Linked DNA regions of Homo sapiens. The protein of the gene in region 2 binds, or shares a complex with, the protein of the main gene of each other region. Each region holds a gene or a part of one and is shown on either strand. Other genes may lie near its edges.

Region 1 (16,768 bases), on a different chromosome or scaffold from region 2:
CATGAGCCCAGGAATTCAAGACCAGCCTGGGCAACATGGCGAAACCCCATCTCTACTAAAAATATAAAAAATTAGCCAGTAGTGGTGGTGCACTCCTGTAGTCCCAGCTACTCGGGAGGCTGAGGTGGGAGGATTGCTTGAGTCCGGGAGTGGGAGGTTGCAGTGAGCTGAGATCATACCACTGCACTCCAGCCTGGGCGACAGAGACGCCATCTCAAAAAATAAAAAATAAATAAAAAATAAAAAAAGAACAGAGGCCAGTAAACTTTTCCATCAAGGCACAAATAGTAAATATTTCAGGCTCTGTGGGCCACATGGTCACAGCTCTACTGCAGTCCTAGCAAGAAAGGAGCCACAGACAATACATAAAGAAATGGCAGTGGCTGCATTCCAATAAAACGTCATTATGGATACTGACATTTGAATTTCAAGTAATTTTTACACAAGTCACAAAATACTACTTTTCTTTGTGTTTTTTCCAATCATTAAAATATAAAAACTATTCTTACTTCACAGGCCATAAGAAAACAGGCAGTGGTCCCACGGGCTGTAGTTTGCTGATGATCCCTGAACTAGAAAATAAAATAGATAAAGCACTCAGGAACAAATTGAACAAGAAATATGCAAACCTCCATGAGGAAATTTAAACATTTTTGAAGTCACAAAAGTTAACTTGAATAAAAAGGTATACCATGTCTTTGGTTAGAGAGATTCAACATCCTGAAGATGCAAATTCTTCCACAATTAATTTTAAAATGTATTATGAGGCCGGAAATGGTGGCTCACGCATGTAATCCCAGCACTTCGGGAGGCCGAGGCAGGTGGATCACCTGAGTTCAGGAGTTTGAGACCAGCCTAGCCAACATGGCAAAATCCCATCTCTACTAAAAATATAAAAAATTAGCCAGGCATGGTGGCAGGTGCCTGTAATCCCAGCTACTCGGGAGGCAGAGGCAGGAGAATTGCTGGAACCTGGGAGGCGGAGGTTGCAGTGAGCCAAGATCGCACCACTGCACTCCAGTATGGGTGACACAGTGAGACTCTGTCTTAAATAAATAAATAAATAAAGTATTATGATCCAAATTAAAGTAGCAAGAGATCATTTTTTTCTGGAATCACACAGCTGACTCTGAAGTGGATATGACAAGATAAATAAGCAAGATTAGGTCTGGAAAATTCAGAAAAAGAAGAACAAAAAGGAAGCAGCTGTACTAGAATGTAAAACACTGTACACATCAGCAACTAAGCCAGTGTGGTATCAGCACACGAATGGACAGACAGAACACATCCAGAAATATTAATACATCCAAATGAACCCAGGACTTACTGTGTGATGAAGGTGGCATATCAAATCAGGGTGCTAAAGATGAAGTTTTTAATAAATGGTACTGGGCCCTAAAGACAAACAGATCCAAACCTCATAGTACGCATCAGGATAAAAAGCACTGCAAGAAAATCAAACATTAAATATAAGAAATGAAACCATATAAGTTAAAATGGGAGGAGCCAGATGGTGCACAGTGGCTAATGCCTGTAATCCCAGCACTTTAGGAGGCTGAGGTGGGAGGATCACTTGAGCCCCGCCTAAGTCAAGGCTACAATGAGCTGTGATCACACATTGTCCCTGTCCAGGCTGGGTGACAGAGTGAGACCCTGTCTCAAAATAAAATAAAATAAAATAAAATGGAGAAAGCCATTCTAAAACTAATTTAAAATCCAGAACCATTAAAAAGAAAAAACTCATGAATTCAAATATATAAAAATAATTTGCTTATGATTTTTTTGTTATGCAAAGATCAAAGGAAAAAGACAAACTGGAAAAACAACATGATTGTAACATCACAAAGATTAATTTCCATAATCTATCAAATAAATTCTAAAGAAAATTCTGAAATGTTCTAGAAATTCTAAAGAAAAAGACCAACAACCCAATTTGGAAAATGGGCAAAGGATGTGAACTGAGAGGTCACAGAAAAATACCAATAGCCCCTCAACCTGGGGAAAGACCTACACTGTTGGTGAGGCCATGAGAAACAGGCACCCCCATACACAGCTGGTGGGAGAACAGAACATAAAGCCTGAGGAAGGGGAATTTGATAGGAACTACCCAAATTACTGAAGCCGTTACCTTTGACAGGACCCACTTCTGGGAATCCTGATTGGAAACAAGTGGAGTGTACATCCACTCTAGAGACTACAGGAAAGAAAGAACAAGAGTGATCTCTACATGGAGTATGGTGTGAGCAGCAGGATATATTAAGTGAAAAAAGGCCAGGCACGGTGTCTCAGGCCTGTAATCCCAGCACTTTGGGAGGCTGAGGTGGGTGGATCACCTGAGGGCAGGAGTTCGAGGCCGGCCTGGCCAACATGGTGAACCCCTGTCTCTACTAAAAATACAAAAAAAAATGAGCCGAGCATGGTGGTACATACCTGTAATCCCAGCTACTCGGGAGGCTGAGGCACAAGAATTGCTTGAACCCAGGAGGCAGAAGTTGCAGTGAGCTGAGATCGCGCCACTGCACTCCAGCCTGGGTGACAGAGTGAGACAATGTCTCAAAAAAAAAAAAAAAAATGTGTAAAAAGCAAGGTGTATGCTACTTTTGTGTAAGGAAGAGAAATAAGACTACAGATAGATAGATAGAGACATAGATAGATGATAGAGATATAGACAGATGCTAGAGATATAGATAATAGAGATATAGACAGAGAAATAGATGATAGAGATAGATAGAGATATAGATAGATGACAGAGATATAGATAGATGATAGAGATATAGATGATATAGATAGATGATAGATAGAGATAGATAGATAGATAGAGACTAGACATTTTCTTTTTACTGTTTTGGGTGTTTTTGAGACCAGGGTTTTTGCTGTGTCACCCAGGCTGGAGTGCAGTGGCTATTCACAGGCAAGATTGTCGCACATCACAGCTTCCAACTCCTGAGCTCCAGTGATCCTCCCACCTCAGCTTCCCAAGTAGCTGGGACTACAGGTGCATGCCAACATACCCAGCTAATTTTTATTTTTGGTAGAGATGGGAGTCTTGCTATATTGCTCAGGTTGGCCCTCAAGTGATACTCCTGCCCCAGCCTCCCAAAGTGCTAGGATTACAGGTATGAGCCGCCAAACTCAGCTCTAAGATAATAGGTTTTAATTCTTTTTTTTGAGACAGGGTCTTGCCCAGCCACCCAATGGCACAATCATGGCTCACTGCAACCTCAATCTCCTGGGCTCAAGCAATCCTCCTGCCTTGGCCTCCCAAAGTGCTGGAATTATAGGCATAAGCCACAGCACCCAGCCACTATATATTTTAATTTGCTTGTATTTGCATCAGGAAATACTAAAAGCAAGAAACTAATAAAAATGGTTACCTATAGATTGGGAGCAAGGGGGATAAGGACAAGAGTGGGAAGGAGAATTTTGTGTCATTTTGACATTTTAACCATTTAAAATTGTCTAATTTTCTTTTAATGAGTTCACTTATTTAACAAACTTTAATTGAGCAATGCCCCAGGCACTCATGAATACCTGGGTGTCAAGGAGTGGATGCAGACAGAGAATGTGACAGTAGGCCAGGTGCAGTGGCTCATACCTATAATCCCAGCATGTTGGGAGGCCAAGATGGGCGGATCATTTGAGGTCAGGAGTTTGAAACCAGCCTGGCCAACATGGTGAAACCCCATCTCTACTAAAAATACAAAAAAAAATTAGCCGGGCGTGGTGGTGGGTGCCTGTAATCCCAGCTACTCAGGAGGCTGAGGCAGAAGAATTGCTTGAGCCCAGGAGGCGGAGGGTGCAGTAAGCAGAGACCGCGCCACTGCACTCCAGCCTAGGCAACAGAGCAAGACTCTGTCTCCAAAAAAAAAAAAGAGAGAATGTGACAGTATGCTCATAAATATGTATACTTCTACATATTAAAAATATATCTCTGAATATCTGCTTTGGTGCAATGGAAAATAATTCAGTTACATGATTAAGAAACCAAATCTAATTAGTAATTGAAAGTGCATGTGTATGAGAAAGAGAGATGGAAGAATTAGAGACCCTATTCGAGATGCAAGTGCGTTCTCAGAGATGGCAGTTGCTGTCTTCAAGGGAACCGAGCCCCTCTGTGGGGGACAACCACTGCACTCAACATAAAATGTCATTTCAGAGACACCATGTTTGAAATAGAACTACCTCCTCCCACAACCCTTCTTTCTTTCTTGCTTTATTTAGGATCATTGAACTTATCACCATCTTACATATATTTTTACTTATCTTGTTTGTCTGTCTTCATTAACTACCCCAGGGCCATACTCATAAGAAATCCCTTAATAAACATCTGTGGATGAACAAATGAGCAGATCGCTGCCTGGATTGATTGATGGCTCTTTCTGAGATGTTTGACTCCAGAACGCTGGTTTTGTTGTCTCAGAAATCTCGATGCATAAATCCCTGTGGCTGCTGCTGTTGCAAGAACGTATGCAAAGTTGGTCATCGCGGTTGATCCAATCGAAGTTATGTGCGTTGCTGGCGTAGCACACATACTGAAATTAATCACCACTGGAAATGTCTTTAGGAGGACTATACTGACTCCACAGTGAGACAAAAAGTTAGCATGTCCTTCCAAAAGTCAAGGAAACAGAGCAGGAAGGAGTAACTTTGACATTAGAAGAGCATGTATTTGTCATTGTGGGGATGACTGAAATTCCACATTTTCTTGCCAAGCCAAAACTAAGAGCTCTGCAGAGCTTAAGAGAGGAAAATACCCACAAAATTCCTCTGAAGAAATGAAAATGTCAAGCCAGGAGAGGCTGTTGTGACCAGTCCATGCATTGTGCAGGCACGTGTCCTGTTTCAGTGGGTGGCTTATTTCCTTACTTTACATAAAATAATGGTGTATGTTACCATCTTAGATGACTGGGAATATAGCATGTGGTTTGCCTGCCAGATAAGGTTCCATTCTCACCTCCAACCACATCCCTAGGTGCAAGGATGTCTATTTCACATTACCTAATAATTCGACAAAGAACACTTAAAAGTTTAATGACTTGTTTTTTTCTTTCCAGAGGGCGCTGATTTTAAATGTCTCCATCTCAAACTGCTTGAACCGAGCCAGTAATAGTCACAAGTCAAAATACTATGAGATCACTTAGTAGGGGACTGGTTAAATTAATTATGGTTCATCTATATACTGAAAGACTATGAAGCTGCTAAGGTGACTAGAGCACTTTCTAGGTACTGATTTGGAATATCACAAAACTCCAGTAAATGGGGAAGGAAAAAAAAGACCAGGTGCATCCATCTCAATGGGTTCAGTGTGAACTCACTATGAAAAGGGGAGTGGGATAGGCTGGGCACATTGGCTTACACCTGTAATCCCAGCACTTTGGGAGGCCAAGGCTGGTGGATCACCTGAGATCAGGAGTTCGAGACCAGCCTGACCAACATGGTGAAACCTGTCTCTACTAAAAAGACAAAAATTAGCCGGGTGTGGTGGTGGGCGCCTGTAGTCACAGGTACTCGGGAGGCTGAGGCAGGAGAATCGCTTGGACCCCGGAGGCGGAGGTTGCAGTGAGCCGAGATCATGCACTCCGGCCTGGGCAACAAGAACGAAACTCCATCTCAAAAAAAAAAAAAAAAAAAAAAAAAAAAAAAACAAGAAAGAAAAGAGGAGTAGGGGAGAGGTAGTGATGGCCACCTTGTGCTTGCCAGAGTATGCAGTTATCTCTAGAAAGGTACAGCACATTTCTTTTCTTTTTTCTTTTTTTTTTTTTTATGGTGAGACGGAGTCTTGCTGTCACCCAGGCTGAAGGATACAGGACATTTCTGCAAAATGCTTTTTTTTCTTTTGAGACAGGGTCTCACTCTGTCACCCAGACTGAAGTACAGTGGCGTGATCTCAGCTCACTGCAACCTCCACCTCCTGGGTTCAAGTGATTCTTTGTGCCTCAGCCTCATGAGCAGCTGGGATTACAGGCACACACCACCATTCCTAGCTCATGTTTTTGTATTTTTAGTAGAGATAAGGTTTCACCATGTTGGCCAGGCTGGTCTTGAACTCCTGACCTCAAATGATCCACCCACTTTGGCCTCTCAAAGTGATGTGATTACAGGCATTAGCCACCACTTCCGGCCTGCAAAATGCTGTTTTTTTGAACTCATTTGTAGGTAGGGCTTACTATCTACCAGTTAGTAATTGAAAGTGCATAAGTATGTTTTTTTCTAGTAGTTAACGATTGATCCTTTTCTAACGGTTAATCCTCTTAACAGCCCTGTGAGGTAAGGGCCTCATCCCCCTTTTCTACAGATGCACAGAGATCACACAGCCAGAAAATGGCAGAGCTGGGATGAAAACCCAGGGAATCTGGCTCCTAGTCCTGGAGCATTCTGCCCCACTGTTAAGACTGGCCTGGGGCATGGGGGAGAGGGGTGTAACCAAGGGATCTGGAAGCAAGGGTAGGTGGATGGAAATAGTATATACTATTTTGTTCTATTTGAATTTTTGTCAGGTGTAAACATTACCTATTTTTAAATAATTTTTAAATTTTATTTTTAAAATAGATAATGCATTCAAAATGTCTAGCTGGAAAATCATGGGTGATCCATTTAGAAGGATCAGGTGAAAACAGATGGTGAAATACATGGAATGTGAAACCAAGAGCTTGGGTTTGTTGTGAATGATGAGGAAGCTTTTTGATGTTCTGAATGTGGGCAACTAACTGGAAGTGGCTCTGAGAATCTTCAGCCACCAGGCATGGCTTCCTCTCTGCGGTTCACCTCCTCAGGGTCACCCTCCCCCTAATTCTACAAGTCCTCCAAGACTAGCCAGCACCTAAGCATAATGGATAACAACCACTGGGCTTTGGAGGCAGAGCCACTGATTCTCATTCTGACCCTCCACTTTTAAAGGGTCCCTGGGCAAGTTGCCTTTCTTCACCTTATCTCATCCATAAAATGGGCATAAGATTAAGCACCTCACAGGGTTGATAGTATGGTTAAATTAGGTAATACGTGATATGTGCTAAGGATAATGTCATGCATAAAGTAAGTGTTCAATTAGTGCTTATTATTATCCTAGCATTGACCAGGATTGAAATCTCAACTTTGATTCCAAAAAAACTGTTGTCTTCCCCAGGGACAACCAGTATCTTCCCCTCTTCCCTTCATGTTTCTCCTTTCTCCCTTAAAAGAAACATCAGGTGCTGGACCAGATGTAGTTTATACCCATAGTCACTTAATGTTTCCAACAATCCTACCAGGTAGATATAACTATACCCATTTTCCAGATGAGAAAACTAGGCTCAAAGAAATATTGTAACTTACACAAAATGCCTCAGCTGGGAATGGTGAAGTTGTGACTTAACCCATATCGTGCAACTCCCATGCCACTCTCCTCTGCCCATTACACCATGCTACCTGATGGTCCTGCTCACCTAAGGCCAAGCAGAACCTGCCTCAACTGAGAAGCCTTCCCAGACTGCCACAGCTGCACCAATATGGTTCTCCTGTGCACCTATGCAAGTCACACACCAATTTGTTAAAATCTTGCATTGCTTATTTTCTTCAGGGTGATTGAATTCCTCAAATATGAAATTGGACTAAATCTACTCTTTTTAGCCCCCCAAATACACAATTCATGAAAGTTGCTACCTAACAACAGACATGCTTTTCTCCATCTGTATGTTTTGTCTACCTCTTCTTAACTCCCTTTGTTGGGATAAGTGAAATCTGATAGTCATCATTTCATGAAATTCCAAATGAATACTCAAAACACCTGGAAATCTTTCTGTGCTGTTGTTTTTTAGAGGGAACTTATGAAATATACTGGAAAATATTCCCTACCTCCTATATCTGGATACACTTCTAATATTCAAAACACCACCATCATAATGATCCCAAGACACTGCAAATTCTATTGCAGTTTGAATCACCCAATATTGAGATATATTTAGTTTATGCTAAATCCCTGACTTTAAAATAACTGACATATTTGGCGAGCTGCTGGATCTTAACACACTTCCACCTTCAGTCTTTACTTGCACTGCCAAAGCTGTGGGAGAGGCATTTTCGACAAACCCACAGTGGAAACTGACCCACATATTTCAATAGAAATGTTACAATTGCTACATTTAACCACAGTAATACACTCAACATTAAGGCCTAAACAGCTTCTTGTATAATAGCCTCAAAGTTAGCCACATTTTAAATAATTTACATGAGAAACTGTATTCTGAATTCCAATCAAGTAACGTTTTCAGGTTGAAAGTGGGAAACTGCATGCATTCTTAAATACACATGGGAATTGTTAGTCACCAACTAAGCTTACCCTTCCACTCTGTAGCATTGCATGAAATGCAAAGAAAAACAGTTATCATCCAAAATGAAGACAGAATACTGAACCCATATTTATCTTTCAAATTCTCAGCGATTATAGGCAGCATCAAAAGTCTCACAAGCCTACTCAACTGCAAAAATTTCTTGCTGCAAGTATTACTGAATATCAAGTCCCATTATACCATGTCTAAAGCAGGACTTGGGTAATTTAATGATATATCCTCCTGTAGCAGCACCTATCCCCTGTAAGAGGCGGGTGTGCTATTGTGCTTTCTATAGGCAGGGGGTAGCTGGTCTCATTCACGGAAATTTCCTTTGTTAAGATGCTCACTTTCTGGTGATACCATCCAACTGCCCACTGATTTCCTGGCAAGGGCATTCAACAGAATGTACTGCTCCCAATCCCACAAACCTAGTAGCAAAGTTGCAGGGGTGACCTTAGCACACTTGAAGTGGGCAAAGTAGACACAGAATCGGTAAAACATAGGAATCTAAAGTGGGCTGTGGACCTACCACTTGCTTTCAATTTTGTTATCACTTGTCAAGCATGGGGCTAGCCTGTGAGGTTACAAAGATGAGTAAAACAGTGGAGATGGCAGACTAGTATACAGGGAATTGCTGGCATTTTGGAATATTCATTACTTTTAGTTATGGGAAGAAAAACTCTGAAAATGTACAAACAAAACCTAAAGATGACAAACTACTGCTAAAGTTTAAACTTAAAACGTTCTGAAGAATAAAAGGGAATTGCATACTCTTCATTTTAAATAGGGAAGAGTTCACGCAGTTTATTCCTAGCCAGTGGAAAAATCAGTCTTCCCATCATTAGCCCTGAACTACGTACTAGTTATACTATTTAGTAAACAAAATTAAGTGGGGGTAAGAGATCAAATATGAGAAGCTGAAAACTAAGACATTCTTAAGGTTAGAAACACACCGACTAGTACTCTCCTTAGTTCAGAGCCACAGATCTTACCCTCTACTGTAGCTACTGTGCGATAATATGCCTAGAGGGCCAGTCATGGTGGCTCATGTCTGTAATCCCAGCACTGTGGGAGGCTGAGGCGGGCAGATCACCTGATGTCAGGAGTTCAAGACCACCCTGGCCAACACTGTGAAACCCCATCTCTACGAAAAACATATATATACAAAAATGAGACGGGCATGGTGGTGCATGCCTGTAGTCCTAGCTACTCAGGAGGCTGAGGCAGGAGAATTGTTTGAACCCGGGAGGCAGAGGTTCCAGTGAGCCGAGACCGAGATCATACCACTGCACTCCAGCCTGGGCAACGGAGGAAGATTCCGTCCCAAAAACAAAAACAAAAAGAAGCATAGGAAAGGAGACCCACAGTTGAAAACAGAACCCTCCTCTCCACTTCAGGTAATTCTACACTTCTTACCATGTAGTTGCCTGAAGGTGGGATTTCAAAAATGATTTTTTTTATTTTTAAAGACGGACTCTCGATCTGTCGCCCAGGCTGGAGTGCAGTGGTGTGATCTCGGCTCACTGCAACCTCTGCCTCCCAGGTTCAAGCAATTCTCCTGCCTCAGCCTCCTGAGTAGCCGGGATTACAGGTGCCCACCACCACACCTGGCTAATTTTTGTTATTTTTAGTAGAGACGGGGTTTCATCATGTTGGCCAGGCTGGTCTCGAACTTCTGGCCTCAAGAGATCTACCTGCCTTGGCCTCAAGTGCTGGGATTACAGGCGTGAGCCACTGCGCCCAGCCTTTAAAATGATTAACACAAATATTGTAAATATATACATGTAAGCTAGTGCCAAATTATACCAGTGGAGACTTATTTAAATCTGGATTTTGTTGACAATCAGCATGACTTGCCTGGCAAAGAACCACAACTGTCAAGTCCTGCTGGAACACTTTGTCACCATGTAAGAAACAGGGCTGTAACAAAGTCACACATTGAGTTTCCTCAGTTAAGGATTTGAGGTGGGTGGTGGCGCAGGGTCGGGGGGGGTTGGGGGGGTTGGGGGGGAGTCGGAGTGGCAGCAGGGCAAATAAACCATTATGGCACATAAAATAATTACACACATAGAAATATTCTAATTTATATTTTATTGCATTATGAAAATAATACATTTGGCAAAGTAATCTAGGCTCCAAGTTGAAATAAAAGAAAATCCTGAAGAGTGTACTGATTTTTAAAATGTGAAATAGTAAGATGTAGTCTAACCAATACATACTAGCACTCTTATTAGGCCAAAACCCAGCAAACCTAATTTTTATAATTCCATATGAAATTACAAGGTGTTTTGCATTCATTCATTTTATGATTAGCACAAATCTTGAGAACTGACCCTCACCTTCATCAAAACCAATGTTAAATTCCTGTTCAGAAGACAATTTGAAACACTACCGAAAATTTTTAATTCCTTTGGTTTTGTAAGTTGCATTTTCATCCTTACCATGTTACATTTTTTTCATAATCAAACATTGTAGCAGCTTTAGATTCTGCCCAAGTACCTTTAAGTAAACTAGTATATTACATTTACATTATTTGAAAAGTTGATTTTACAAATGCAAAAATGCATAAATACATGCCTATCTACACCGGCAAAACAAAATACTCTGAATCTCAATGCTTTAACAAGCCACACCTTCTGGCCGAGGATTTCTGGGATGCCTTTCCAAGCCACAGGGCCTGGCTGGCAATTCCACTACTCCAAAACACACGTCTGAAAGGTGTAGTTACAATAAACCCTAAGCAGGTTAAATTTATCTAATAATCAACATTTAAAATATGACATTTTCACTACTTCTGCTACATTTTTCAGAACTGAAAATATATTTTTCAAAAATGTACAAGGATATTTTCACTTTTTAAAAGGGAAAAGTGCTAGAAACATAATACATATATATATATATATCTCACTTTCCTCATCACCATCTTCAAATTTTTTTTACATGTTGGGTTATAGTCTAGAGAACAGGTAAGCAATCTGCTCAAGGTCAGAAACAAAATATCTTTAATCACTGAGGTCTCCATTCTTCATTTAGATCTTTTAACAGGACTTTGCTTGATATATGTTAAGAAATATGCCTAAAATCACTTCTGTTCAGAAGTGAATCAGTTACTATTAGAACTGACATTTTCATTAAGCAAAGTCTGTGTTAAGTGCACCTATGAATACCTGCGGAAATTTACTTCCAAATGGCCATCAATATCTAAAACCAGCTGAACAAGGTTTCCCAATTTAACTACAGAAGTATTCCACCTACCCTAAAGATATTCCATGAGCATTCTACAATTATCTGTATAAACAGCAACAAGTTTGATCTATGATCAACATATGAATATCTAATAAATATTAAAACTATTAAACTATAGATTAAAATGCAGATCTCTCATAGAGTTAAGTGATGTCATTTTGGTACATTCACCATTATTGTACTTTATTTAATAAAGAAATACATTTGCCCTTGCAAATATAGCAATTGCAAGTTTACAAATAAAACCACAGACCTCAAAGTCATAATGCTAAATCTTCAACTTACAACCAACAAAAGTAAATCAATTTGTTTACAAATGGTCCATGGCACTACAATTAAAATAAAAAATATCAAAAGGTCACAGGATCTTAGGTAAGTTTACTGACAATTTCATAAATATTCAAAAGAAAATTTCAAAATTTGTAAACTTAAATTTGCCTCATTTTAACATTTTTGAAAAATTTTTTAAAAATTTACAATGGTTAATTTTTCTCCCCTCTTGGGTATAGTAAATCAATATTCAGATTTTATTTCAACTATTAGACATAGTCATAAATATATCATCTAGCTGTTGTGAACCTGACAGTCAAGTCAGTCAGTAGTATATTATCCTACAAACATAAATGGATCCAAATCGTTTTGGTATTTATAGCCATGATGATTTAAGTAGTCAAAACGCAAAACTTGTGGTTGCCCCCCAAATCACCCAAAAGCATATTATACAGTGTCAGAAACTGTTTGCATCAGTTTTAGAAGCTCATCTGTGTAGTTCAGGTATCTGAAACTAAAAAAGGGGGGATTCTTTCATATTTTGATAAAAATGTAGTCAAATATTTCATAACATTAATATTTATTGCTTTATATGAATACTGTATTGAAAGCCCAAGCATTCAGTTTACACACAGAAATTATACAATTATATACCGCTTCACAAAGGCAGTGAACACATTACATTCTACAAAATCTACTTTACAGAAATTTAAAAACTTTAAATATCAAAAGGTACAGCTGAAGAAACAGGTATAAATTTGGCAGCCAGTAATTTTGACAGGGAAGTTACAGCTTGCATGACTTTAAATATGTAAATTTGAAAATACTGAATTTCGAGTAATCATTGTGCTTTGTGTTGATCTGAAAAATATAACACTGGCTGTCGAAGAAGCATGTTCAAAAATATTTAATTCACTTCAAAATGTCATACAAATTATGGTGGTTTCTATGCACCCCTAAAGCTTCAGTCATTTAGCTCAGGTACATACTAAAGTAATATATTAATTCTTCCAGTACAGTGGTGTTTCATACCATTGACATTTGCATACCCTAGAATAATTTAGAAAGACATGTGTAATATTCACAATGTTCAGAAAAGCAAGCAAAAGGTCAAGGAACCTACTTGGTTCTTCTGAGATGGTCTCATATCAGCTTCATAAACATTCATTCTACAAAATAGTAAGCTAACATTTGAACACAATTTCCAAGATAAAGCATATTTTCTCATAAATAATGAAGTCTTTTTCTCAGGCACCTCAGAAGTATACAAAAGAATTTGAGTTTGAACAGATCTCTTGGAATGTGTTTAACCTGGTATTTCAACAGACTTAAGATTTCCAGGGTTTCACAAGGGCCAGATTTTATTTCAATTACTCAGAAGAGAAAGAAAATGTCTTCTGAAAGAGGTGAACTCAATCATTACCAATAGAAAAAGTATCCACTGTATTCATCTCTTATAGAAACAGAAAAATATAACATTTCCCCCCTTAGAATTATATATATATATATATATATATGTATGTATATATGACTTAAAGTTCCATTGTACGTAGCCAAACAATAAAATCTGGAAACCAGCATGAAACCCTATAATTCACATGTTAAAATGTTGAAACTATGACCAAAATATGAAAACTGCTAGAGCTATCAGAAAGAGACAAGACAAAAAGCTTCTTGCATATGTATAAACTAAATGTGATAATCTCAAAAAACTTTTCAAAATTGTAATTACTTTCCAGTTTAAAAACTTCAATCCTAAATTAAAAAAAAAAAAAAATCTATACACAAACCACTGATTTGCCCAGACCAAAAAAAGAAAGAAAGAAAAGTCAGCGGTAAGGTAAGCAGGACCCAGAGGAGCTGATATTCACAGTTCTTACATGTACAACTCTTTCAGGAATTATCCATAAAGTACTTTATTTTACAACCTGCTTCTCTTGTAAAACTAAAGGTCCATTTTATTACACAAAAGTTTTATACAGTGTTAAAACCAGAACTGTATGTAAAATACTGCATCTAAATGTTTCTAAATAGTTAGTCTTGTTCCATTGGTTCATCGGTGACTTCTGTGGCTTCGTCATCATTTTCCATGGATGATTCTGAAAGAATCTCTCCAGTTTTACTGGAATTGGATCCTACTAATTCTTCTGTTTCACGGCAGTCAGAAGAACTACTACTTACAGGGCCTTCGTTTTCACTACCTTCAGAATGTAGCAAATCTTTCTCAGCTTGAGACACATCAGATTCCTCCATTTGATTATTTTCCTCAGAAGTCTCTTCATTCACAGTTAAGGCATCATCAGATTCTTTTTCTTGATTTTTTCTTTCTGGGATCATTTCTCTTGATGTCATAAAAGACTCTAAAAATAAGCAAATGTTGTTGTAGTTAAATTGTATTTTCAAAATACCTCCACAGTTAAGTTTCATGAATTCTGATATTCTATAGTTCAAATCACATCCCCTGAAATTCAGCAGCAACTACATACAGGTGGGAGAAAAGCCCAACATCAGCATTATAAGGAGTTCCATTACGTAAAATTCTTTCACGAAAAAAATGAAGTACAAGAATTTGAGGATCTCCTTACTCCACCCTTTTACAGATGGTCTCTAAATACCTTCTTCTTCCTCTTCATCCTCTTCTTCATCCTCTTCTGTACAGTGCTGCCGGGTACAACGGCTATCTTTGTCTTTATCCTGAGATGAAGATGATGCTTCTGTTTCTCCTACCATAACTGAAGAAATTTCGCTGGAAGTCGTTTGACTGGCTGTTTCTCTGACTTCACCTTCTTTGTCAAACCTGAGTCTTTTTACCTCATGCCCCTCAGCTTCCACAGCATCTTCATCTGGATGTTTATTTTTCAAAGGGCTCACTGAGGAAACTTCTGATTCAGAGGTCGAAGAGTCACTGTAAATGTTTTTTTAAAGTGTCATTAATAAGATTATTTTCCCCATCTTCTACATCCCCATTTTTAAGGTTAAATAATGTTTTAAATTGTATTTCAGTGTCAAAGTTAAATTATAACACCTGAACAAAGAAAAACACAAGAGAATAATTTCAAGGTAAACTAAACTGTTTGATGAATAATTCCCAGTAGGACTCAGAAAAGCTATATGACCTTTCTGTGCAATTCTCCAGTAAGTTAAATATTCTCCTACAATAAACCCGCAAGTCTTCCATACGGACATACTCTCTTAAGTCCTCTCCCTCATTTAGTCTTCCTTCCCTTAATGTGATACAGAAAATTTGAAGATATAAACAAAAGGTGTCCTTTTATGAACTACAATGAGAAACGACTCACAAAAATCAACTTATTTATAAAGATCATTTCTTTTCAAGTAACTTTCAGAAACAACAAATGAAATGGATCATCATATCTACGTTACTTTTAGACCCTACATAAACAGTCTCCACAAATTAGCAGTTTTAAGTCTTGTCTATGTCCACCTTCAACATTTGCTACAGCTGCAAAGAGAAGCCAGTGCTCCTATAAACCGCATGAAAACCTTGTTCTGTCCCTCAGAACTTATAAATAGTAAGTGATAAGTACTGATTAAATGTTAACTTTAACTTTTAATAAAAACACTGTTTTTAAATATAAAACATACAAACCTGTGATTTTTCTCCTCATTTTGCTGCAAATTTGCCTCTTTGCTGTCTGTGCTCTCAGGCAACCCATTTGTTGTCATGGGGGCTGACAAAGAAACCTTTGGTCGATTAAGTGGCCTGGGTGTCCCAGGCCCATTTATATTAGACCTATAATAAGATAAATGAACATCATTTCCTATTTTTATAAAAAGTCATCCCTCTTAAGGTATGTTGATGTGAATACATCACAGAAGTATTTGCTGCAACTTTGTTTTCAGGCCCATGCCTTACCAAATTAACTAATTCTATGTAGTTCATCCTATGGTGTCCATAAAATGCCCAATTTTTAAAAAGTACACTAAGCCTGCTACTCAAAATCAGGACAATGCAAACTCTGTAGGTATTAAAAATCTAGAATCTCACCTCTCAGTATAGCTTGGTGAATTTCCAGGAAACATAACACCATTCATTCGATTTAAACTATTGGAATTGTTTTTCCTATAAGAAAAGAAAATACACTTGTGGATGACTTAATTTTTTTTTAGATGGAGTCTGGCTCTGTCACCCAAGGTGGAATGGAGTGCAGTGGTGCAATCTCAGCTCACTGCAACCTCCACTTCCCAGGTTCAAGCAATTCTTATGCCTCAGCCTCCCAAGTAGCTGGGATGACAGACGTGTGATGCCATGCGCAGCTATTTTTTTTATTTTTAGTAGAGACGGGGTTTTGCCATGTTGGCCAGGCTAGCCTCAAACTCATGACCTCAAGTGATCGGCCCACCTCGGCCTCCCAAAGTGCTGGGATTACAGGCGTTAAGCCACCACACCTGGACTTTTTTTTTTTTTTTTTTTTTTAAATAATGAGAATTAGTTCATGTTAGGAGTGCATGGATCTATGATTCCACCCAACACTCCCCCCTCAAGATCTTACGGGGTAGATGCCATTTGAAGCAAAGGGAGTGTGATGGTTGATCCTGGTATAACATCAGGAGCTTTAAATCCCAAAAATGTGGGGTTGCTCATCTTGGCCCAGTAGTTTGCCGCTGTTGCTAAGTTTGGGAACATTCGTGGTGACAGCTCCCCAATAATGGGGTGGCAAAGTACACCCCCAAACTCAAAATATTTCCCCAATGCCTTTTTAACCATTGTTTTTTTTCTCCTCAAAGACTGGGATCTCAGACACAATGGCCCGTAGAGCAATGGAGCCATCCATGCACTGATCTAGAAACATTCTCACAGCATTAATAGGTTGTCATCTGTGCTTTCTTGGCAACTAACTTGACTTGCGTAGCTTGTGTAGAGGGGATTCAAAGTCTCCAAATAGAAGTGTGAACATTAATTCTCCAACCCATGGTCTTGAGCT
Region 2 (7,000 bases):
AGCAAAGGAAACTTTTCTTATTCTCTTTTACACACATCTCATACCATGCTACAGCTTAAGCCCATTTTATCATTTCATTTATTACTAAAATTACATTAGCTTATAATATGTTCTATGTATTGAATTTCATCACTTTTACTTCTTAGATGGCTCTTCTTTAAAAAATTAATCAATTATTTGAGTACATCTGCTTAGGTCATAAGTATCTGACATACTGGTGATTTTTAAGTCTCAATTCTAAATGCTCTCCAAATTTCTCACAGTTTTCTTAAATTTCAGAAATGAATCACTTCTTTATTATCTAGAAATACTAAATAAAATGCTATAACAGGCTTATGAGTATTATTATTACTATTATCATTACATTTCGGTGCCATATCTACTATTTTTGTTAAATGACATTCATTCAACACACTGTATTTCTTACAGAACAAGCCTTGTAACTAAGTAGAAGTAGAAATATGAATAATAAATGGTCTCTGATTTTGAGAAATGTAAACCAGCAAAAAAGCCAAACACAAAAAATATAAGACAATGTGATCACTGTCTTAATAGCTGGTATAAGGCAGGGATCTATAAACTTTTTTTGTAAATATTCTAGGCTTTGCAGGCTCTGTCTCAACTACTCAGCTCTGTTCTTGCATCACAAAAACAGCCACAGACAATATGTGAACAAATAAGTGTGGCTCTGTCCCAATAAACTTTATTCACAAAAACAGGCGGTGGGCCAGATTTGGTCTAAGGGCCATAGTTTGCCAACCCCTGGTGTAAAGGATTTAGAAAGATGTCAGGGAGGAAACTGTATTTAAACTGGGAACTAAAGAAGCAGAAGGATCATTCTCAGCAAACTATTGCAAGGACAAAAAAACCAAACACCGCAAGTTCTCACTCATAGGTGGGAATTGAACAATGAGAACACTTGGACACAGGGTGGGGAACATCGAACACCGGGGCCTGTCGTGGGGTGGGGGGAGGGGGGAGGGATAGCATTAGGAGATATACCTAATGTAAATGACGAGTTAATGGGTGCAGCACACCAACATGGCACATGTATACATATGTAACAAACCTGCACGTCGTGCCCATGTACCCTAGAACTTAAACTATAATAATAAAAAAAAAAAAGAAGCAGAAGGAGTTGGCTAGGACAAAAATAGAGGGAAGGAAACAATAGAGAAAGAAAAAGTATGAGAGAAGACTAGAGGTGTGAAAGAATCTGGTATGCTAAGGAAGTGGGACTGGAGCATCAGACACAAGAGGAGTGGGAAAGAATGGTAGGAAATAAAGCCACAAACACAGGTTAGGCCCAGCTCTGTGATAAATGGGTGTGGGCAGTAAAAGAGAAAAGATCAAAGATGATGGCAAGGTTCTAGTTTGGAGCCTGGGGATGCCCCATTATTAGAGGAAAAAAGATTTATTCATTCACTTATCATGTACTGCAGTTTTACTCCTCTGGTTTGTCATATTGTCTAAATGACTGTTCTGGAATTTCCAAACACAATTATTGTCCATATTGCAATAATCTTTAAGAGGCTTCCTAGAGTTCAGATAAAATGTTGGTAATCCAAGTAAATGTAATACTATAATTATACGATTGAATTCTGTACCTAAGTACTTGACATTTACTCCTCCAAATTTCTCTTTATCAAAATAGTTAATGTTTACTGATAACTAATATCCAGCATTAGTCAAGAGTCTAGCCATACATTCAGTAGAGCAGTTAACTGTCTTTGTGACATGATTTACATAACACTAAGGAATATCTCTTTACCCTCTCCCACTCAAATACCCCATCCCAAATTTCTCCCCCAATGGCCATGAGATCTCTAGCATTAAAATATTATTAAGGAGAGGAAACTCATGTAGACAATGTCTCAGGATCTGTCTTAATGTCAATTAGGTGAAAAAGTTAAAGTCAAATTCTTAGCCCTATACACACACAAGTCAGTTAAGTTTTGATGGGAGAAAAGAGAGATGGAATATGTAGCAACACTGTATGCCATAGGGTACTGGTTTTAATATGGTTTGTCTCCATCAAAATGCCTGTCAAGGCTTGGCCCCAGTGCAGCAATACTGGAAGGTGAAATCTTTAAGAGGTGGGGCCGCATGGGTCCACCCACTGGCTCCACCCTCGTGGGTTGACTGGTGAAGTTCCTGTGGTATTGAGATCTCCTTCACAAGTGACTGGGTTAGCTCTCGTGGGACTGGGTTAGTTCTCTGGAGAGCAGGTTGTTACAAAGTCAGCTTCTTTTGTTCCCTCTCCCTTTTGCAGGCCTGCTTCACCTTCCACTTCTCTGCCAGATTACGAGGTGGCATGAGGCCCTCATCAGAAACAGGTCAGATGGGGCTGCCTGATCTTGAACTTCCCAGCCTCTAGAAATGTGGGCCAAAATAAATTCCTTTATAAATTACCTGGTCTCAGGTATTCTGTTACAGCAACACAAAATGGACTACGACACCATGAGGGTAAAAGTGAAAGCCAAGAAGACACGAAAACAGAATGAATCATAAAAAGAGGGAGAGGAAGGGAGGCTTAACATAGGAAATTCTAAATCTACTTTTATTCCTTATTAGTGACATAAAACATGTAGAAAAACACTGTTTTCAGAAGCAAAGATGTAGCCACATGATTTACCTGTATCAAATATATCAAGCAGATTAACCAAAGTTTCAAAAGCTGCAAGTCGTACACTGCTGCCTTCATCCCTAGAAAGTTCTATTAATTCAGGGAGCACCACACTTTTTGTAAGTTCTGTCCTGCACAATAAGCAATAGAAGAAAATAAATCAAATCAATAAATGTGTAGCAGGAACTTACTAAAAACCAGTGACTGGGCTAGTTGCTGCAGAAAATATGAAAAATCATAAAGATACTGTTCCTGCTCTCCAGAAGCTTTCAGTCTTATTGGGAAAGCACACCATACATATAAGAAACATTAATAGTAATTTCATAATGATTTCAATCAATCCCACTTCCTCCAGCATAATATTGTTACCTACAGAAATCTTAATAACTAAGAGTTTATATCAAACTTTATAAATTATAATATAGTTTTCCATTTTAAGCAACTTCAGCAAAAATCTGGACTAATTAGAAAAACTTATCAGTAGTAACTGCAGAAACCTAAATAATATATTTCTATCTAGATTTCAGGGTATAAATTATTTTCCATTCACCTAATACATGAAATTATGGTAACTAATTTCTATATAGAAGATGATATATCACTCTAGGTGTCCTACCTAGCAGAATGAAACATAATATAAATACTTTTAGGGAGTATACAATATTTATAATACAATCACAAATAGTTTGTATTCAACATTTTGTTTCTGCTTATTCCTCATGATAAGGTGTCACTGTAATGACAAACACTCTGATCAAGGAGAGCCTTGTGATGTGGTTAGCTTTCTTGGGTACAAGATGGAAAACAGCATCAATTATAATTGACATAAGATGTTGATAGAGTCCAAGAAAGTTATTAAGAGTTGTAGAAAACTTTTAAAAATTTCAGCGCAAATCTCAAAGACTCTAAGACAATGCTGTCAAGTAGAACTTTCTCCAATGATGGAAATGTTTATCATTTGTACTCTTCAGTAGGGTACTATTGAGCATTTTTTAAAATAAGTTTATTATGAATGAGGAACTAAAGCTCTAATTTTCTTTAATTTTCCTTATTTTAAACTAAAATAGCCACATGTGACTAGGGGCTACCATATTAGGCAGCATACCACAATGACAAGGACTTAAGCAATTGAAGAGCCACAAAAAAACATGTTTTTCTAAGAGATTGATCTAGATCATACAGATAGAGATGTTAACATTACCAGTACTTCACAAACATTCAGCAAATACAGGATATAGACAGAGGAGGTAGAAGAGTAAAATGTGATAGAACAAATCCAAAGTTCATAAAAATTTATTTCATATAAATTTTGCTCAGAATATATTTGTATACCTACTGAAATCCTTGAATTTATTAACAATGAAAGAAAATAGTTTAAGAAAAATAATTTCATCTCTATAGTAAAAGTTATTTCCATTCAATCTTTAAACAGAGTTCTCTTTTTTTCAAAAACATGTGACAGTGATGCAAATTCAACTTAATTATCTCTGGGCATTAAAAAAGAAAATAATCATAACAGATAACTCTTTCATTAATTGTGTTAAACTTCCAACACGACACTTAAATACTATTTAGCAACAGTGGACACAGGACAGAGTACACTACCATACCCTGTGTGACATTCCACCATACCCTGTGTGACACTCTACCATACCCTGTGTGACATTCAAAAGCCTTTTCGGAGCCTTAAATATTGGCCCAGATTTTTAAAAAATTAACAAAGGTACCAATGACCACAATCTGATTGTCCTAGCTTGTGCAACAAAGAACCAGATGAAATCAGTGCAACTTCTGCTAAAAATGAGAGGTTCCAATGATTTTTGTACCAATTTTGAATCTTGTTTTTAAAAGAAAAGATTTCCCAAGATGGTTTTTAGGTAAGACTCCCTTTAATATCACACTTCTAAGATTGAAATGAGATCAGTTCTTATGGGTGAAGAGATTGGCTGCTATGCCTCTCCTGGAGCTTCAGGCACCCATAGAACAAGGGGAGCAACAGCTGGGCGCGGTGGCTCACACCTGTAATCCCAGCACTTTGGGAGGCCGAGGCAGGCGGATCACGAGGTCAGGAGATCGAGACCATCCTGGCTAACACGGTGAAACCCCGTCTCTACTAAAAATACAAAAAATTAGCCGGGCGTGGTGGTGGGCACCTGTAGTCCCAGCTACTTGGGAGGCTGAGGCAGGAGAATGGCATGAACCTGGGAGGCGGAGCTTGCAGTGAGCCGAGATCGCGCCACTGCACTCCAGCCTGGGTGACAGAGTGAGACTCCCTCTCAAAAAAAAAAAAAAAAAAAAAAAAAAAAAGAACAAGGAGAGCAACAAAACAAACATTGGAAGCCTGAAGTTGCACAGGAGCTATAGAAAGGCTTCCATTAGAGTGTAGTCGGCCCTCAACATCTGCAGGTTCCACATCTGTGGATTTAACCAACCATGAATAGAAAATATTCAGAAAAAAATTTCTTCTTTACTGAACATGTACAGACTTTTTTCTTGTCAATATTTCCTGAACAATACAGCATAACTATTTACATAGCATTTATATTGTATTAGGTACTATTAGCATCTAGAGATGATTTTAAACATGTGGAAGGATATAAGCAAGTCATATGGAAATACTACACTCTTTTATATCAGAGACTTGAGCATCCTCAGATTTTGGTATCCAAAAGAGGTCCTGGAACCAAGTTCCCAAGGATATGGAGGGACAACTGCAATCCCATCTGAAATGACCCAATAATATAGTCAAAGAATAGCCAGTCAAACATATTCCAAGTATGGTTTATATTGGGCTATCTTTTCTTTCCTGAATCTAGGTGTCTGGAATGATAACTAAGCAACTAAGGTGAGAAAAAAAGAAATTAACATTAATCAAACGCCTACCACCATGCTAAGCACATTCCTCTTTATCTCTTTTAATCCAGACATAGAGGAGGTACTTGTTATGATCATTTTTAAAGATCAAATACAGCCTTTCAATGGCATGTTTTCATGGAAATGGCATAAGGAATTCAAAGTATACCTACCCAATGCCCTGGGCTATATTTTCTAATTGCCGACACATACAAGATCGAACTTCATATTCTACATCTTGACAGAGTGATTTTACCAGAGGAAGTATTTCTCGCTTAATGCTGAAGGTGGGGAGAAAAGAAACATGCAAATGAATGAGTGTTTCAGAATAATATTCCCAAACAATTATCATTAAAATCTTAACTCACCTTAATAATAACAAATGTACTTTAATAGAAAAAAAATAATAGTTTACAAGGTATTTTACATGTTATTAAATTTGGATGTTATTAGCTACTTGTAAATTATGTATATCACACAGTCTTTTTAAAATAATGGTTAATTTTGGATTGGCAGTTGAAATGTCTATAGCTAAGATAAAAGGCTGTAGCAGTAGAATATCTGAGTCTAGCAACCATCAACCAAAATACTCTTCAGCTTTACTCTTGTATCATAATTATAAAACATTCCATTCTTTTCATTTGGTATTTAATAAGCAGGCAAGAAGTAGCACATGAATTATAAACATGCTCCATAAAACCTCACAATAAGTTAAATTATTCAAAATAACAAATTCATAACAACAGTGTAAAAAAGCAGCAATTCTATCTTTATGCCGCTGCCAATTTTGAAAGTCAATAAGATAACGCTATTTTATCCTCAAAACTATATTTGGTATGAGATAGGGAAGATTAAGATAGGAAGTAGGAAAAAAGTTAACCTTACCAATTCTGAAAAGTTATGAGATTGAAAAGAAAGGCATCTGAATAAGTAAATTCGTCATGAGAATTCCATAAAGTTAAAATAGTTAAGATAACTAAATTTGTATGCAGTATGAAATAACACAAATATATTGTTACACAGTCATTATACATTTTAAACGAATGTAATAAAGTAGACCGAAAATTACATACAAATACTCACGTGTGGGCATCAAATTTGTTGGTCAATTTTCCTAAAATTTTACAACTAACTAAACGAGACTGGACTGTTTGGGAAAGTTGTGCCTTGGAAACAAGTGGATTCAAAATCTAAAGAGAAAATTTAGAGAAAAAAATTCACAAAATTTTATACATTCATGCCACTCATGTCAGCTATTCCTTCAGAGTATTTTAAAGTTCTAAATGTTTTTAAAGAACCTGAATTACGATTTGAGGTTCATGACTCAATAACTTGGATTATCTTATTTGTCTTCTGAGTTATTAAGGTAAAGATAATTACAAATTATGCAATTAAAACAATTAGGAAAAAACTGAAGTAAAGTTTATGGTGATTTTACAATGCTCTGTATGCACAGATAAAAGTAGAATTTTGAAATACATATTTTAAAAAGAAAAGAGCAAATAATGACTAAATACCTTG

Evidence for each region.
Region 1: PPP4R4 (region 2) and PPP4R2 share a complex: the UniProt entries of both Homo sapiens proteins name them as parts of the PP4 complex.

The regions. Positions count from the first base shown.
Region 1 is NC_000003.12:73,062,811-73,079,578, reverse strand, and holds the end of PPP4R2 (serine/threonine-protein phosphatase 4 regulatory subunit 2), read right to left. Parts: coding exon of another isoform or gene 16,679-16,768; exon of another isoform or gene 16,242-16,678; intron 15,907-16,241; coding exon 15,832-15,906; intron 15,577-15,831; coding exon 15,433-15,576; intron 14,728-15,432; coding exon 14,438-14,727; intron 14,183-14,437; coding exon 13,857-14,182; 3' UTR 10,381-13,856; downstream 1-10,380. Other genes in the region: EBLN2 (endogenous Bornavirus-like nucleoprotein 2), read right to left, coding at 16,679-16,768. UniProt on the Homo sapiens protein: Regulatory subunit of serine/threonine-protein phosphatase 4 (PP4). May regulate the activity of PPP4C at centrosomal microtubule organizing centers.
Region 2 is NC_000014.9:94,233,322-94,240,321, reverse strand, and holds part of PPP4R4 (serine/threonine-protein phosphatase 4 regulatory subunit 4), read right to left. Parts: intron 6,670-7,000; coding exon 6,563-6,669; intron 5,761-6,562; coding exon 5,653-5,760; intron 2,758-5,652; coding exon 2,636-2,757; intron 1-2,635. UniProt on the Homo sapiens protein: Putative regulatory subunit of serine/threonine-protein phosphatase 4.